Regions from separate parts of the Homo sapiens genome. Here region 2 is linked to region 1. The links come from fine-mapping of genetic effects on gene expression. A gene starts in region 1. The other region holds a variant in brackets. All regions are shown on one strand. Distances are from middle to middle.

Region 1 (9,215 bases):
TCTCCCTGTCCACAATACACGACTGTGGCTGGGAAAGAGCTGCTCTTTGCCAAGAACCTCATATCCTTGTAACTCCATGTCCTGGCCTCCTTTGCAACTAGATTGGCCACATGATAGTTCTCATGTGAGTGGAAGTCATGTCTGCTGCTTCCAGGCCAAAGCAGATAAGCAAATATGCCACCTCCATACTTTCTTTTGTCTTGTGCACCTGGCTGCAGACAATGAGGATATCTGAGGAGAGAGTGGGACCACCAGATGAGTCACTGAAGTACCATGAGGAAGAGGACCACCCTCCATTCAGAAATACTTGCCTTATAATAAAGCTCTGCTTTGCTTCAGCCCTTATGCCTTTGGGGACCTATTTGTTACTGCAGCTACTACCCTAGCTGATATACCATTCGACCTCCTTATTTACAGATGAAATTATTGTGGCCAAAGAGTAAGAGTGCCTTGCCAAGGTCACACAGTAAGCTCAACAAATGTCTAGAACTTTGGTCTCTTAACTCCTTGGAGTAGAGGAGTTGCAGTTTCCTGCCTGCCCCATGGAGCTACAAAGATTCTTAGAGGCCCTTCAGCAACAAGAGTGAGATTTAGTGGCAGCCTGGAGTCTTCCACCTCTGTTTCAACAAGAATAACACCACCTTTATCTGTTTTCAAATTACACTTCCCCATAAGACTTTCATTTGTGGAAAGGATTCTGCAACTGAAAATAATTTCAAAGCCTCCATGCTGGGGGATTGCTAACACGATCTGACTTTCTGTGGTACTATAAGACAAAGTTTCGCTTCTTCTCTGCCAAACCTTCTGGCCTCAACTGCTGACACGGAACATGTGGATTCACAGAAGTACATGAATATTTGCTTAGAAGGGAAAAAAGAAACCTTATTGTGCAGCAAAGAACCCAAGACCCCAGTGTGAACAAAGGGCAAAAAGGAAAGACTTTTAAGCACTCTAGGTTGGTAGTTCTCAAGTTTTGGGGTGCATCTGAATGACCTGGGGTGCTGGTTCAACATGCAGACACTGAAGCCTCATCCACAGAGATTCTGATTTCCAAACTGAAGCTTTAAGAAACACTCACAATTGGCCGGGCGCAGTGGCTCACGCCTGTAATCCCAGCACTTTTGGAGGCCGAGGTGGGTGGATCACAAGGTCAGGAGATTGAGACCATCCTGGCTAATACGGTGAAACCCCGTCTCTACTAAAAATACAAAAAATTAGCCGGGCGGGGTGGTGGGTGCCTGTAGTCGCAGCTACTTGGGAGGCTGAGGCAGGAGAATGGCGTGAACCCGGGAGGCAGAGCTTGCAGTGAGCCAAGATTGCGCCACTGTACTCCAGCCTGGGCGACAGAGCGAGACTCCATCTCCAGGAAAAAAAAAAAAAAGAAACACTCACAATTATTCTAATGCAGGTGGTCTAGAGATTGCACTTTGAGAAGCTCTGAGTCTACTTCATAGCCTCGCAACTGGCGGTAATGTCTGCACCCATGTGGTGTAGCTCAAAGAGAATGAAATAAGCTTTTGGTTTTCTTGTACATCAGTGGGAATAAGAGCATTAATAATCCACTAAAGAAATCAATAATAATTTCCATTTGGCTCAGATGAGTGTCACAGGTATAGACAGGCACAGTGGAATAGAAATGATCATCAGAACAATAGCTAATGTTTATAGAGACCTTATTTTACAACAAATCCTCTGCTTACAGCTTTACTTGTATGATCTCATTTACTCTTTAGAATAATCTTATGAGGCAGTTACTGATCATATTCCCATTTTATAGATGAGGAAACTCAGGCACAAAGATGAGGAATAACTGATTCCATGTCACTCAGTTGGCAGGTGGCAGGCCAATTCAAGCCCACCCCCAGAGTGATAATAATATCAAATAATATCATCCTTATTTACAGATGATATTATTGTGGCCAGAGAGTGGGAGTACCTTGCCTAAGACCAAGGTGCCCCTTCTTGCACAATGTTCTACTCCCTTTTGTGGGGAGGTCTAGCATCAGAACTCTCCAGGCTTCTGTTTCCTAATCTGTAAAATGGGCATGTTAATAGTACCTTCATCATGTGGCCATGGTGAGGATTTGATAAAATCATCTCGAGAAAGTGGTTTGCAAACTGAGAGGAGTTATTAGGTAAACATCTAAGAGATGGGACTTCAGTCCAACTTCCCCCACCCCATTTTACAGATGGTGAAACTGACACCTGGTTACTTTATTTATTCCATGAACAATGACCCTAATATATGCTAGTTCTTGTGCAGGGGACTGAGGATGCAGAAAAAAAGTAATATCCCAGATCTGGCCTCTAGGGGCCTCCCGGCTAGAAGGAGAGACAGACAAGATGACTGGTCATTAGAACACGGTGTGGTAGGAGCCGTGATAAGGGAGGGATAGGCCCTGGGAGAGCCTAGCAGACAAGCCCTGACCCAGTGCGGGTAGGGGACTTCTCAGAACAAGTCAAGCCAGAGAAAGGCATGACTTGCCCAAAGTTAAGGTTATCTGTTCCCTGAAGTTTTGGGGGAGTCCAAAGAAGGCCCCTGTGCATCAAGAGATAACTCTCCTGTGGACCTCCCAAGTGTATGACACATCATCATTTGAGTGCCACTGGTTTAGGTTAAAGAAAAGGCCAAGCTGCCTCCTCCTGCACCAGAGGCCTGAATGACCCAGTCACACTCACCTCAGCAGCCAAGGCATTTAGAGGAATCTTACCTTCAAACCAGTTTGGAAGGGGCAGGAGATACAGCAAGAACCACAGAGAAGATTGGTCTTGAGAAGGAGGTAGGGGATGCAAAAGGGAAGTTGAGGGCTTTCCCTAATAGAAAAAGAAAGACTCAGAACCTGGACGTTCAGGCGTGTGACCTCAGACCAGTGATCTGGCATCTCTGAACCGCACAGGTCTGAGTGATTGGGCTTATATCAAGTAGTAGTTCCCTGATGTTGTAATGCTTATAATTTTGCCAAAGCTGGCTTGCCCATTTAAAATGGGCTATTCTGAAGACAGAGGAGGGAGTGGAATATTTTCAACAGAGAGTGCCGGCAAAGGTTTTGTGTCCTTTATATACAAAGAACCCTTAGATATCAATTGGAAAAAGATAAACATGCCCCCAGAGGAGAAAAAAATGGGAACAGACTTGAACAGGAGAGTCAGACTAGAAATGTGAAAAATAAGTTTATAAAAGAGAATCAACACTAACAAAGAAATGAAATGCCTATTGAAGCATCTAGATATTATTCTCGACTTCACATCAGGGAAAGTTTAAGGGATGGGTAGCAACAAGGTGGGTTTAGTATGTGAGAATACTGTGCCCTGGTATAACATCGTAGAGAGGTCAAGCTGCCACGGCCTTCCAGGGTGCAGTGTGACCAAAAGCTCAGAAGTCTTAAAAATAGGCAAACCTTAAATCTAGCAATTTCTAAAAGGTATTCATAAGACACACACACAAAGATGTCATACTAAATATTCATTGCAGCACTGTTCTAATAAAAAAAAAGAAGCAAATCTATTATGGAAAAGTCAAATAATCTTAAGATAGCCTTTCTATGCAGCCATGAAAAATGTATATTGGAAGAATATAGGTGATATGGAAAAAAGTTCACAATCTGTGGTTAAGCAGGTTACCAAACTAGATGTGGAAATCCACATTCATATATTTAGTTGTGTATCCTTGCTATTTCTTTAAACAATGAACATGCATTACTTTTGACATCTGAAAATAATAACAAAACTCTTCCTTTTAACAAATATGAAATTATAAAAAGAAACAAACTTTTCTCTCTGTTAGTATTCATTCCCCTTCCCTGGCCCCCCTCAGAAGACACCCAAGGCAAGTGTGTGATGATACCTTCCCTCTGGTCTCTGCCCGGAAGGTCTTCCTGAGGGTTCCCTGTGACTGCAGGCCACTCGAGGCTGTTGGGGAGACTTGCACACCCTGGCTTCTTTCTGCCAATCACAGGCTCCTCTGGCTGTGGCTGTTTGCCCAGAAAGCAGTTCATTCATTTGTTCATTCAAGATCCCCCTCTGAACCCCCAGAGCGCCGCAGCTGGAACACCCCTATCACCCGGAGGCTTCCCAGGGAGCCTGCTCTGTCCTGAGCTCCCTGCTGGCCGCCGGGGCTGCTTCCCTGAATGGGACTGGGACAGAACTCAGCCAGAGAAACAGCTGGAGGGAGGAGAGCAGGAGGGAGGGGCAGGAAACTGGGCTGACCTAGGGCGGGGGCGGCTAGCTGCGTGGAGAGGGGGCTGCGAGGGGAGGGTGCCCCTACCAGCCGGGGACTGGGCTTGTGGGTGGCGGCGGGGGCCCGCTGGGGACGACCCGCCCCTCTGGCAGCCTCTTGCAGCCGGGGAGCCGTGCCCACTGAGCGCAAACAGGGAGCACATCTGAGCACCCGGCTGCTGGGGGAAGTGCAAGCGCCTCTGCTCCCGGTGAGGGGCTCAAGCTCCACACTGACCGAGAGATTGGCTGCCTCTCACCCTGGGCCTTTGCAACGCTGTTCCTCCCACCTGGATGCTATTCCTGCCCTAATTCGTGGCCCGATGGTCTCCTACTGCCTCTTCAGGTCTCAGGTTGAAGGTCACCTCCCAGGGAAGCCTTCCCCAACCCTCGGGGGCTGCTGTGCCCCTCAGGGTCACCCCATCACCTCACTGATGCAGTGCTGTCCTTGCCTGTTAAGATGTCTCTCTCCTTGCACCGAGAACTCCTTGCACCAGGAACTCTGTAGGGAAAGAACTGTATTCTGTTCCCTGCCCTAACCAGGCGCTAAGTGCCTGGTTCATCGGCTGTGTGGTCACCATCATTAGTGGAATAATCAAAACAACCGACAGCCAGGCAGCGTGCTAGGCGATGCGTACTTACTCTTCACGGCAACCCTAGATAACAGGAATTATTACTACTCCAGTCTTACCAATAAGGAAACTGGGGTACAGAGAGATTAAGTCACTTGCTCAAGACCACACCGCCAGCAGCTGACAGAGCTGGGATTCCAACTATGTTGTCTGGCTCGGAGGCCCACCCTTGGCCTCCAGACTGAAGAAATAACAGAAGTGCCCATGTGGGCCCCTGTGCCAAGTGCTTCCATGGAGTAAGCCGTGTGAACCACCACCCACGTCGGGGGGGCATCACTTGCCCATTCTACACATGAGGATGCTAGGGCCACAGAGCAGAAGTCGTTTTGCCCAGGGCGCCAAGCTCATGCTGACCGAGCCATGGCTGGATCTGAGTCTGTCTGATTCCAAAGCCAAGACTGCCTACGACTGCCTAAAATAATATTTTTAGAAAGAAAAAGAAAAGGGAAGGGCAGGGGAGGGGAAGAGAGGGGAAGGGAGGAGAAGAAAGAAAGGAAGAAAAGGGAGGGCAGGGAGGAAGGTAATGGGGAGGAGGGGAAGGTGAAGGGAGAGGGAGATGGGGAGGGAGGGAGAGAAGGAGAGAAACCTGTGTTTTGGGCCTCAAAGTCTTGGGCAGGTGGAGGACTATGTCCTCATCGTCTGATCAGCCTTAGAACCCCACCGACCTCTCCCCACCATCCTCAATCCTTTAATTCAGTGAGCTTTACACTTAGAAACCATCTAATTTCATTCTTCCATTTCACAGATAACTTGAAGCCCAGAGAGATTGAGTCTCTTGCCTGAGGTCACACAGGTCTCTATAGTCAGAAGTCAGGCCCAGTCTACCCAACTGTCTTCCTTGCTCTCTTCTTCTTTGGGCTTATCTAGGGAACAAAACATCATATCGAAACACTTACTGTACAGATGAGAACACTGAACCCAGAGGAGGCAAGGGACTCACCCAAGGTCACCCAGAAGTTAGTAATTGTATTGGTCCGTTCTCACACTGCTGTGAAGAAATACCCAAGACTGGGTAATTTATAAAGAAAAAAGGTTTAATTGACTCACATTTTCGCATAGCAGGGGAGGCCTCAGGAAACTTACAATCATGATGGAAGGTACCTCTTCACAGGGTGGCAGGAGAGACAATGAGTGCCAGGCAAAGGGGGAAGCCTCTTATAAAACCATCAGATTTCATGAGAACTCACTCACTATCATGAGAACAGGATGGGGGGAAAACCACCCCCATGTTCAATTACCTCCCACCTGGTCCCTCCCATGACTCGTGAGGATTATGGAATTCCAATTCAAGATGAGATTTGGGTCGGGACACAAAGCCAAATCATGTCATTCCCCAGGTTCTCCTGGTGAAAGGAGAGGATATTTCCATAACGTGGCAGGGATCTTGTATATCACCATCTAATAGAGACCAGAGGTTCCTAAAGTCTAGTTTCCATACCAACCCCAGCAGCCTCACCCAGAAGTTTGTTAGAAACACAAACCCTTGGGCCTCACTGCAGACCTTGGCAATCAGAGACTCCAGGAAGCCATCTGGGTTTTAAGAAGCCCTCCAGGGGATTCTGATGCTTGCTCAAGTTTGAGATCCACTGACATAGGCATTTCAATTAGGAATCCATTGAAATGGGCCCTGGAACAAGTCACCTTGCCAATGCACAGAATAGTGGCTAAGAACAGAGGCTTTGATAGCAGACGGACCTGGTTTGAATTCCTGTCGCTGTCACTGTAAGCTGTGTGACTTGGGCAAGGCCTTTCACCTTTGGAGTCTCAGTTTCCTCATCTGCTGTGGACAGTGGAAGAGGAAGAGGAGGAAGAGGGAAAGGGAGGAGGGAGAGGAAAAGAGGAGGAGGGAAAAAGGAGAGGAGGAGGAGGGAAAGAGGAGAGGAGGAGGAGGAAAAAGGAGGGGCCAAGTAGAGGAGAGGGGAGGGGGAGGAGGAGGAGGGAAAGGGAGGAGGGATATGAAAAGAGGAGGAGGGAAGAGGAGCGGAGGAGGAGGGAAGAGAAAGAAAGGGGAGGAGGAGAGGGTGGGGGAGGAGGAGACGAGGAGGAGGGAGTAAGGAGGAGGAGGGAAAGGGAGGAAGGAGATGAAAAGAGGAGGAGGAAGGAGGAAGAGAGGAGGAGGAGGGAAGAGGAGGGGTCAAGGGGAGGAGAGGGGAGAGGGAGGAGGAGAAGAGGGGGAGGGGGTAAGGAGGAGGAGGGAAAGGGAGGAGGGAGATGAAAAGAGGAAAAAGAGGGAAGAGGAGAGGAGGAGGGAAGAGGAAGAAAGGGGAGGAGGGGGTCAGAAGGAGGAAGGGGGAAAGAGAAGAAGGGGAGGAAAGGGAGATAAAGGAGAGGGGAGGAGAAGAAGGAGTGGGGGAGAGGAGGGAGAGTGGGAGAGAAGAGAAGGAGGCCAGAAGGCAGCCTTCGAGGAAGATCAAGCACACGGGTACTATGGAAGAGGAGCTGGGTAAATCCAGCCCGGGGATGGACTCCTGGACATGCCTCTTCCTCCCTGGAGGTGGCTGTGGCTGTGGCATGCCTCCCTCTGCCTCTGGCCTCCCAGCCAAACCTAAGCTCGGGTCTCATCAGCTAGGAGCCACAACTGGCAGAGCAAGGACACTGGTCCCCCAGCCAGCTGGGTCCCTGGGTGGCTGGCAGAGGAGGTGGGAACCCACAGCCCCACTGGGCCAGTGAGGAAGGCGTGGGGCTGCCTGGCTTATGACTCTCCACCTGGTGGCTGTGGGACAATCTGAAGCCACGGGCCTTTGGCCATCCCTTTTGAACAGGGCTGAACAGTTTGGCTTTTCTTTCTTGGAGCAAAAAGTGTTTGTTGTTGCTTGTGGGGGTTTTTATGCTTTTGTTTTAAAGAGGATTTTGAAATCTAAGGGCTGACCTGGGGATACTGGGACTTGAGAGAGAAGCAGTCTCCTCCAGGACCCTCAGAGGAACCTCTGTGTACACCCCTGGCAGCTCCACATAGAATCAGGATGGAGGGTCAAGCTTCCTTTTGAGGTCCAGCTCGGGTTGACTGGTTCTTGATTCCTGGAGCTCTGTGTTAAAGGGAATCTGAGGCCACATCCTGGCCTGGCTGCAAGGAACTCAGTGATCCGTGAGCAATGCCTGCCCTGGACCTGGAGTGGGAGGAGGGTTGCCTTTCTCATCCCATGCTGTCCTCCAACTAAACTCTGTCCCATTGGCGCAGGGTGGACTGGTTCAGCAGGGACTGGTTCCACCCCTACCACTCCCTCTCCTGGTACTGGCTGTGCCTAGTGTAATGGAGCTTATATCTCATTCCCAAGCCACTGGGTAGCTCCTTCCGGCAGATCTTTAGTGTTCACAGATTCCTAACACTCTACTTAAAGCTGAACGGTTTCCCCAGCCTCCCTGATCATCAGTGGCTAAACTAGGCTCAGCAGAGAGGCTCCCAACCAAAGGAGGTCTTCAAAGATGCATCCTGCCACATGAAGGATCCTCTCTAAGTCCAAACTCTGCCTACTTTGGACTTTCTTTAAGGCATAGACAGGCCACATGGGAATGAGAGCTCCTCTATTTCAGCCAAAGATGGGCTGTGTGACCTTGGGGGACTCATATACCTTCTCTGGTTCATTCAGTGCTCAATAGATGCTTACTGGACCCCATCTCTGTGGCAGGCACAGGCTGGTGAACAAGACAGCCATGCCCTATGCTCAGGAAGCTGGCCTGCTGGAGAATTCATTTTATTTATTTATTTACTTTTTTAAAAAATTCTTTTGAGACTGAGTCTCCCTCAATCTGTTGCCCAGGCTGGAGTGCAGTAGCAAGATCTGGGCTCACTGCAAGCTCAGCCTCCTGGGTTCAAGTGATTCTCTCACCTCAGCCTCCCAAGTAGCTGGGATTATAGGCACGCACCATCACACCTGGTAAGTTTTGTATTTTTAGTAGAGATGGGGTTTCGCCATGTTGGCCAGGCTGGTCTCGAACTCCTGACCTCAAGTGATCCTTCCACCTTGGCCTCCCAAAGTACTGGGACACAGGCGTGAGCCACCGCGCCCAGTGAAACTCCCCATTTTAAATGAGATATGATGCTTTCTAAGAACCCCTTAATTACCAGGAAAGATTCTCAGGCAGGCTAGGCATGGTGCCTCACGCCTATAATCCCAGCATTTTGGGAGGCCAAGGCAGGACAATTGCTTGAGGCCAGGAGTTCAAGACCAGCCTGGCCAACATCGTGAAACCCTATCTCTGCTAAAAAAGATAATAGCGAAGCATGGCAGCACATGCCTGTAATCCCAGCTTTTTGGGAGGCTGAGGCAGGAGAATTGCTTGAACCAGGAGGTGGAGGTTGCAGTGAGACAAGATGGCACCACTGCACTCCAGCCTGGGCCACCACGCAAGACTCTGTCTTAAAAATAATAA
Region 2 (9,215 bases), 26 kb before region 1:
TGAATAAAATACAAAGAGGGTCATCTTCTCAGAGAAGCTTCTTGGAACGCTCTCCCTAACATAGAATTCCCCTCCCCCAGCATTTATGCCCTGTTCCACCTTTGAATGGAGACCTGAATACACAGAGAGGGAGACATGGGCTGGTGCTGTGGAAGAGCATGGTAGGCAGTGGGAACAGCAGATGCAAAGGCAGGAGGATCGCTTGAGCCCAGCAGCTTAGGGCTGCAGTGAGCTATGATTGCACCACTACACTCCAACCTGGGTGACAGGGTGAGACCTCCATCTCCAAAAAAAAAAAAAGCCAGTAGTGGGCAACGTCTAAGGGTCACACTCCTTGCCAAATGCTGTGGGAGTAAGATGGCCCAGTCACTACCTTCATGCAGAGAAAGTGGTTGCAGGAACAGATCGTGGCACAGTCAGTATTCTGAGATGTCACCTAAATTCCAGGCTTCCAGCAAACTGGCCATGCTGGGCTTGCATTACAGAACAGGGGTTATCCACAGTCCCCACCCCTCCCTATTGTTCCCTGGGGTAATAAGCCAGTTGCAATTTGCCATTGAGTTTGTCCAGGGTCTCTGCTGTGGCAGAAATAAGTGCAATCCAGTGAGAGAAAGAGGAACCAAGTCATTCTCATTTTCAGCTTTCATAGGAGAGCACGTATGTCTTTGTGGACATGAAAAATGTTCATAAATGGGTCATTTGGGTCTCCTGCCTGGCCCTGTTGGTCACTGAGTGTGTGGCCCTGGCTCTGCACAAAGTAAAGAGAAAGGGCTGGGGAAATCAGGGGATGCTTCCTGGAGGAGGTGGCATTTGAGCTGAGCCTTGGAGGGTATGAAGCCTTTGCCAGGTGGAGCAGCCGAGGGAAATGACATACCTGCAGAGGAACAGAGGCTTGAAAAAGTGTGGTTAGGGGCTGTGTGTGTGTGTGTGTGTGTGTGTGTGTGTGTGTTAGGGGAGGGGAGAAGGCAGGAGATGTGGCTAAGGAAAGAAGAGGGTTTCAGATTGTGAGATCCCTGCAAGCCATCAACTTTATCCTATGGGCAATAGGGAGCCATGGATGGTTTTAAGCAGAGGGTATCATCCTTCTAAAAAGATTCCAGCTTCTAACCTGGGTGGCTGATGTGGGCACTGCGTTGGAAGAGGAAAGGCTGGAGGCAGGAGAATAGCAAGAGGCCTGGTGAACTGAGGATCCTTCTGCCAGTTCCAGGCCTACCCAGAAAGTGCAGTTTTTGGAGGCTCCAGGCATCAGGATGTCCCATCAGAGAGCCAGGAAGCCAAGCAATCTCTTTATTTTTCTTAAGGATTTTTCCTCAGCCCACAGGGACTGGTTTGCTTCCAGAGCCATTTCCATGGCAACCACCAATGCTCCAAGAAAGGTCTTGAGTGAGCGGAGGAGTGAGGACCAGAGATACTCAGATGGGTCTTCACGGGAAAAGCCAGGTCACAGAGAAGGGCCCATACTGTCCAGTCCTGGGGGCTGGGAGCCATCTTCCCCCGGAGTCCATGATGCCACAGATAAGCTATGGTTGCCATGGTAACACCGAGTCCCCCATCCCCGGGCCTCATGGACCCAGGGCCTTTCAGCAAGGCGGGTAGGCAGAGACAGGAGGGAGGCAGTGCTGAGGGGCAGCCAGAACCTGCAGCTCACCAGGGAGGCACATCCCAGGACACGTGTGTGAGGCAGGTAAGTTCGAAGACCGCCCCCCCACCCCCCGCCCAGGAGATGAGCAGGGTGCAGATGAAGGAGCAGTCAGCAGTCTCTGGGGTCTGGTGCTGGGGTTCTGGAAAGGCATCCCCCACTGCAAATTGATGCCAGATACACACTGCTGCTATGCCTTCAATTCCACCATCAGGGTCCTGCTTTCAACTTTTCCCCAGTGAACTGAAGTCAATGTCGTGATGACGATGGAGAAGCAGAGGCCCACACACAAAGGAGGTTTTTGGCCACAGTTATACAGCAAAATGGCGTCAGGACTGGGGCTCAGATGCCAAAACCATTCCTACTATGTCAGATCCAGTTAGTGGTTGACATGAATGTGTGTATGTGTGCGTGTGAGATATTAACACTTAAAAGTGCTAGGGAGACTGGGCACAGTGGCTCATGCCTGTAATCCCAGCACTTTGGGAGGCTGAGGCGGGAGGGTCACTTATAGCCAGGAGTACAACACCAGCTTGGGCATCATAGAGAGACCCTGCCTCTAGGGGAAAAAATTTTAATTTAAAAATTTAGCCAAGTGTGGTGACACACACCTTTTAGTCCCAGCTACTCAGGAGGCTAAGGTGGGAGGCTCGCTTGAGCCCAGGAAGTCGAGGCTGCAGTGAGCTATGATTGCACCACTGCGCTCCAGCCTGGGTGACAGAGCAAGACTTTGCCTCCTAAAAAGAAAAAAAGTGCCAGGGAAAGGACGCTAAGGGGAAAAGGCAGCATAGAGGGGGAGAGCTGGTGGAGGCAAGAGGCAACAGGAGGAAGGGTGGGCCACTGAGCATGGGCATTAGCCTCCCTTCCCCTTGGACAACCCAAGTGAAGTCAGCGACCCCTGACCCAGGACAGGGCTGCAGGACTCATGGGAAGCCCCAGGCTGGGGGCACGGAAGGACTGCTGGGGGGACCTCAGAGGCCAAGTCCTTCCAAACCAACCTGCTCCCTGTGCTTAAGGAGCCCAGTACCCCGAGCATGGTTCAAAGCACCTGGGCCTCTGCTCTTGCAGGTCCCTCTGCCTGGGGTGTGCTTTCCACAAGCATCCCCTTGCTTCTCCCAGCCTCATGTGCACAAATCCAGGCAGAGCAAACAGCAAGGTGACAAGAGGAAAGAGACCCATCCTGTTACGTGCCAGGCACCTAGCTGTGAGCTTGACACCCCCTCATCTCCTTGTGTCCTGACAATCCATCTTCCCCCTGGCCTGAGGACATTACCTCCATTTCACAGATGTTGAAACTGAGGCTGTAAAAGGAACCAGATCAGGATCGCCAGCCAGTGCCCAGTGGAACCAGGACTTGAACTCAGATCTGTGAGAACTCAAAGCATCTATGCCCTTATCACAGCATTTCCAAGCATCGTGGATGGGCTGACAGGCCCCTTTCATCACAAGACTGTGAAACGTGTCCAGGCAGCATTCCTTCCTCTCCCTAGGACTTCCCTTACAGCCTACCAGCACGGCTTCTCCATGGGGAAGAGCCCTCACCCACTGCCTGTCACAGGGTCCTGGGGTGCAGCTATGGGGTGAGAGGAACCAAAACTGAGAGTCTGGGGCTCATGGAATCCACCCCCTGCTTATTAGGCACAGACGGCATACTCAGTGCCTCCACTCACAACAAACCTTCGAGGTAGATATTTTCATTCCCATTTTTCAGATGTGGAAATCAAGCCATAGAGAAGCAAGGGCACTGGCCCAAGATCTCACAGTAGGAAGGGGCAGAGGAGAGATCTGAATCTGCACTGCCTGACTCTGGAGTCCAGGTCTTCAGTGACGGTCACTGTCCTTTATGTTCTGTGGCTTGCCTGCTGCACACGGGGCCCTGTGATCTCATATCAGTTGTCCCCACCTGTGCAACTTCCGCACCTTGCACATTCACAATGCTACCTCACTGACTTGGGGTACTTAGAGACTCCAAATCACCCCCCTCTGCACAGTCTCCACAGGCTGGCCAGACTCCCAGGGCAGGGAGTCTGTAGAGGCCTGTCCAGCCACATGGAGCTTTGAAAAATCCCAGAGCCCTGAGCTGCCCCAGGGTCCTCCTGCCTAGGCTGCCAGCCACGAGCACAGAGGCCTTGGAGTGCTCAGGCAGGCTCTGGCCCCTTGGAATTCCCTGGCTCCAGCCCAAGCAGCTGACAAATGGACTGGCACCACTGCCAGCAATCAGGACGGTGGAGTATGAGATCCCACCCTGTTCCCAGGCACAGGGAAGGAGGGGCAGGCTGCCCTTCCTTTTGACCCTGTCACCAGGCTGTCACCTCTCCCAAGGCAAAGCCCAAGCCTTGACCTAGGAGGGGTCTTGCTGGAAAAATTGCCCCCCACCCTACCCCACCCCACCTTCCATGGAAAACAAAAAGCTGCTCGAAGACCAGAGGAAATTCTAGAATCCTAAAAGTCATTGCTAGAGAGGCTTTAGGATCAAGGGGTCTCACACCCTCATCTTACAGGAAAAGGGAAGTGGCTCAGTGCAGCTGACAGCTTAAGCCTCACTCAGTTACAGCAAATCCACATGTGAATCCCAGCTTGGCCCTTCCCATGCTATGTAATCTTGGATTACTAAATCACAGACTCCTCGTCTGTAAAGGGGGTCAATGTAAAGATTTCATGAGATCATATACGTAGGGTGCATAGGGTGACCAGTTGTCCTGGTTTGCCAGAAACCAAGGGGTGTCCTGGGATGCAGAATGTAAAGTGCTCAAACTGGAATGTCCCAGCCAATCAGGGCCCGCTGGTCACTCTATGAACATGAAGAGACTGGCTCAAACAAACATGCCCTTTGGCTGTTATGTTTAAAGAGAGCTATGTCTGGAGTCAGCTATCAGTGAGTTTGAAACCCCCACCAGTAGAACTTCTAGAAAGACTTGTCAAGTCATTGGAAAGCTCTTCCTTTTTTTCACTACACTGACCTTGAGCAAACTGCCACATTCGTGTCAGTGTTGGTTTAGGCCCCTGGAGTCACACAGGACAAGCCAGCCACCTCCCTCCCCAGGCAGCAGCCACTTCCTCCCTTTAATCTCCGCCAGCACTTCCTCTGCATCATTCTTAACCCTTTGCCAGCCGACCCCCACCAGGCCAACTGAGCTGCTCTCCTGGGTTGGGGAGGGGTGCC[A/G]CAATATGGTTTTGCTTGCAGGTTTGTCGATTTTTTATTTTTGTTCACTTAATTATTGGCGTGATGCAGCTGTGGATGGTGGGAGGTTCAAAAGAGGCTCACTTATACAGGGAACATAAATTAAAGTAAAAGAAGGAAGGGAAACATGTGTAGAGACAGAAAATGGAGTCACGGCTAAGGGTGAAATGCAGGGGACACAGAAGTTCCTAGACACTGACAGTGGCTGGACCATACACTGGAACCCCAGCTTCCTGAAAGGGGGACCCAGTTACATGAGTCACATGCTCCTTGCTAAAAACCAAACCCACTCAGGGGAATAGTAAGGCTTCCTGATGCTAGGAGCAGAAGGACTGTCTCCAGAAGCCTGTGGAGAGAAGACATGGGGGATCTGATCACGGAACGGGGTCTCCAGTTCCTGAATGTTTTAAGGGAGGCTCCAAACACTCACTGATGGACAGCACTGCCCCAAACTGCAATTCAGTAAAAGCTGCTTTTCCTAGATATGACTGTGAGTTTCAGTCTACACATCCAGGTGTATGCACTGCTGGTGTAATCCAAAGAATTTTCTAGAATATCTGAGAAGGGGCCTGAACCGTGGCCTTTAAGTCATTCTCCCTGATGTTTTTTCAGAACTGAAGCTTTGGTAGCAGTAGCAGTGATAAGTGGGACACTACTCTTTCTTTTTTCCCCCTCCCTTTTTAAAATTTTATTATTTTAATTTTTGGAGATGAGGTCTTGCTATATTGCCCAAGCTGGTCTTGAATTTCTGGCCTCAAGCTATCCTCCCACTTTGCTTCCCAAAGTGCTGGGCTTACCATCATGTTCCATCATGCCCAGCCCGAGGGACATCATTCTCTATGGCCCAGGCTCGAACACAGCCTTGTTTTTTTTTTTTTTTTTTTTGAGACGGAGTTTTGCTCTTGTTGCCCAGGCTGGAGTGCAATGGCGCAATCTCAGCTCACCGCAATATCCACCTCCCAGGTTCAATCGATTCTCCTGCTTCAGCCTCCCAAGTAGCTGAGATTACAGGCATGCGCCACCACACCTGGCTGATTTTGTATTTTTAGCAGTGATGGGGTTTCTCCATGTTGGTCAGGCTGGTCTCAGGTGATCCACCTGCCTCGGCCTCCCAAAGTGCTGGGATTACAGGTGTGAGCCACTGCACCCAGCCCAAACACAGTCTTTCTCCACACCAGCTGGGGGTGGGCCTGGGGCATCCTTATACTCACCTATCTGTGAACATATTTTATGAAACAGACAATCATGACAAAGACATACTTGATACACAGGTAGAGTGACCCTCCATCCTGGCTTGCCCACAACAATCCCTGTTTATGCTTCTTGTCATGTTCCTTTCATTCTCAAAGTGCCCCAGTCAGGACAATAAATCCTACAGTTTCCCTACTCATAGATTACTCCCTCCTCTGGCCTAGAAGCTCCTGTGTACTAGCCTTGCCCACCTACTTGTGCCAGGCCCTAAGCTAAGCACACGTCCTGTGTCATTAAATTCCCATAAGGGTCCTGTGAGGCAGGTACCACCATGATCCCCATTTGACAGATGAGAAAATGGAGGCTCAGAAAGGCTGTGGCTGCTGTTTCAGGAGGTAGCCATGTGCCAGGAACTTTCCAGGATTTAAACACCAGCTGGTTCTGCACAGATGGCTACTTTCACTACCTCTATTTTCCAGATGCAAAGACTGAGCCTTAGTTCACTGATAAAAGGGTGGCTTACCAAAGCCCCTATGGTTTCAGCCAGGAAAGGACCACAGAATGTCCAAATTTCAGAGTCAGCTTCCTTCAATCCGGGCTCATGAGCTGTGGGTCCCTGGGCAAGTGACATGGCCTCTCTGAGCCTTGATTTATCTCATTGGTAAAATGAAGATGAATCTTGCTGCTTACTGTTGGGTGAGTGAGGAGCAGACGCAGGACCAGCACTTGGACCCTGCGCCTCAGCCCAGCTCTTACAGCTCTAAGAGGAGGGGATGTGTTCCCCCCAGGAAGTTCATAATCCTCAGCAGAAACAGTGCATACTTCATGGAGTCACTGCAAAATGAAAATGCAGCCCCTTATTCAAAAATTACTGAGAATTCAGGACAGCAACTGCCAAGTGTTAAACAAAGCACAGGCCTTCTGAGCCCTGTGTGGCTGCACTGGTCGCCAGCCTGAGATGCTGGCCCTGCCCCTCAGCTCTAGGGAATTTGAGGGAAGAGCCCTCTTCACTTCAGGCCCCAGCAGGGCAGGGGCTCGGCGGGATAGGTGATCTTAGGAGGGAGGAAGAAGCAGCACAGCCAAGAAAGAGCAGAGAGAACAGAGGATGACACCTCCTCAACGTAGACAGAAAGAGAGGGGGAAGAGGGGCAGGGAGAGGAAAGCCAGCAGGAAGAGGAGAGACGCACAGGGACTGGAAAAAGGAGGACAGAGCGGTCAGGGCAAAGCAGCAAAGTGGCAGAAGAAAGACGAAGGCAGGGTGAAGAAAGTCCCCAGGAAGAGAGACCCAGAGGCAAGAAGAAAGGGACAAGGCTAAAAGGAGTCTTCTGCCAACCTCTGAGAAGGTTTAACAAGACCCCATGGAGCCACCCGGTGTGGGCAGGGAGGGGCCCCATGAATAGCTGTCCTCCTGGGGTGAGGGCCATTTGCTATTGCATTTGCATACATTTAAAAGCACAGGAAAGGCAGTGCTGGGGATTTCCAAAATCCCCAAAGATCAGGGAGCTACGGGCAAGGTGTCAACCCCATAGCAGAAATGGGTGGGGCTTTTGCTTTGGGATGGAAAGCCACAGGCACCGGTTGGAACCGCCAGTGGGAGCTCAATCACAGCTCACTGCAGCCTCAACCTCCCTGGGCTCAAGTGATCCTCCCACTTCAGCCTCCTGAGTAGCTAGGACTACTACAGGCATACACCACCACACCCCACTAATTTTTTTTGTATTTTGTAGAGATGGGGTTTCGCCATGTTGGCCAAGCTGGTCTCCAACTCCTGGACTCAAGTGATCCACCCACCTCAGCCTTCCAAAGGGCTGGGAATACAGGCATGAGCCACTGTACCCAGCCTCAATGTCATTGGTTGATTTTAACAGGAAAAGGTGTGATTTAACACACAGCCTGTTTGGTGGTGGGCTGGAGGCAGTGTTTGGGAAGGTCCTGGCAGACACAAGATGAGCTGAAAGCCATCCCAAGCAGTTCTCTTCATTGAGCATGGGTTTCAGTCATTATGTGCTCTAGAGGTTCTCTTCATCCATGGTTATTAGTGTCAAGGAGAGCCCACAAGAACGCATTGTTTTCCCTACAAACATTTCACCAAGAGCTTGGAATGAAATGGCAGGTCCACTATGAGACATAGGTATTGACTACCCATGGCCTCAGGAGGCCACCAGGAGTGCATCACGGTCATGAGGATGATGTGGACACTGGAGGGAGGGGTGGGCTCTGTGTAAACCCCACAGGACTCTCTCAGCTGGTTCAAAGTGGGCCAAAGGTGGCCTCATTCTGACATCAAGGAAAGCCGTAGTCAGCTGGGCAATAAATCCAGCTAGTTTGAAAACTCCAAATGTGCTTATGTCACAATCAAGGAGAAAATAGGAATGAAAACCACGGGCCTTAGAATTTACAACACACATACTATTCACATAATAACACTGTTAGCCTAACAGCCATCCATCCACAATTCTAATAGGCTTTTTGAATTTAAATTGCTGACCAGGCATCACAACTCCTTCTAACTGGTGATGTTCAAACCATCTAAAACTATAGAAAGATTAGAATGAAAAATCTTGCTCCTACCTGCCACCATCCATCCAGTTTCCACTGTACCCACCTCCCTATGTTAGTTCCTCATGTCTCCTTCCAGAGTTTCTTTGGAGAAATACATTCTCTTTTCATTTCATTTCTCTCATTTTGCATAAACGGAAGTATACTAAACACATTATTTTGCAACTGGCCTTTCTTGCCTAACAATATCTCTTGGTGATGATTTCTTATTAGTATATTCATATGTACAAAGCATCTTATCCTTTTTGATAGCTGCATAGTATTCCATTGGTAGATTTGCCAGCATTTAATTAACTAGTCCCAGGGATGGGCACTTGAGTTGCTTCCGGTTTCTTGCTGTTACAATGTTATAATAAATCATTGTGTGTGTTACAATGTTACAATTAACTACATATGTGTATCATTTTCCACATATTCTTAATAGAGTCTGGAGTTCTCAAGCCCTGGTCTTTTATAATGAGCAAATGGGCTTTAAGCACTCCCTTTGCACTGACTGTGCTGTGTTTTGATCCATCAAGAATATCCTTCAGAGCCACTTAGACCTTCAGTCCCCATAGAACCTGGGCCATGTCTTTAGTACAAAGTCTGTCTCATGGGAAGTCAGAGAACCTTGGTTCTTATTCTAGCTGTACTGGCTGTTCCAAC

What was found. PIP is the estimated chance that this variant, and not a neighbour inherited with it, causes the effect.
Region 2: its variant is fine-mapped to the expression of CMKLR1 in monocytes (Quach 2016, PIP 0.93).

What each region holds. Positions count from the first base shown.
Region 1 is chr12:108,335,183-108,344,397 of GRCh38, forward strand. It overlaps CMKLR1 (chemerin chemokine-like receptor 1), which reads right to left and starts at 4,129. Exons shown (of 4, transcript NM_001142343.2): 1 at 3,845-4,129. RefSeq lists an enhancer at 3,562-4,185 and a silencer at 4,293-4,412.
Region 2 is chr12:108,309,250-108,318,464 of GRCh38, forward strand. All of the region lies in intron 2 of CMKLR1 (chemerin chemokine-like receptor 1), which reads right to left. Among named protein-coding and RNA genes, the nearest start is that of CMKLR1, 25 kb to the right of the region's middle. RefSeq lists silencers at 6,883-7,177, 7,283-7,577 and an enhancer at 7,293-7,811. The variant A/G (reference allele first, on the strand shown) is at 4,803.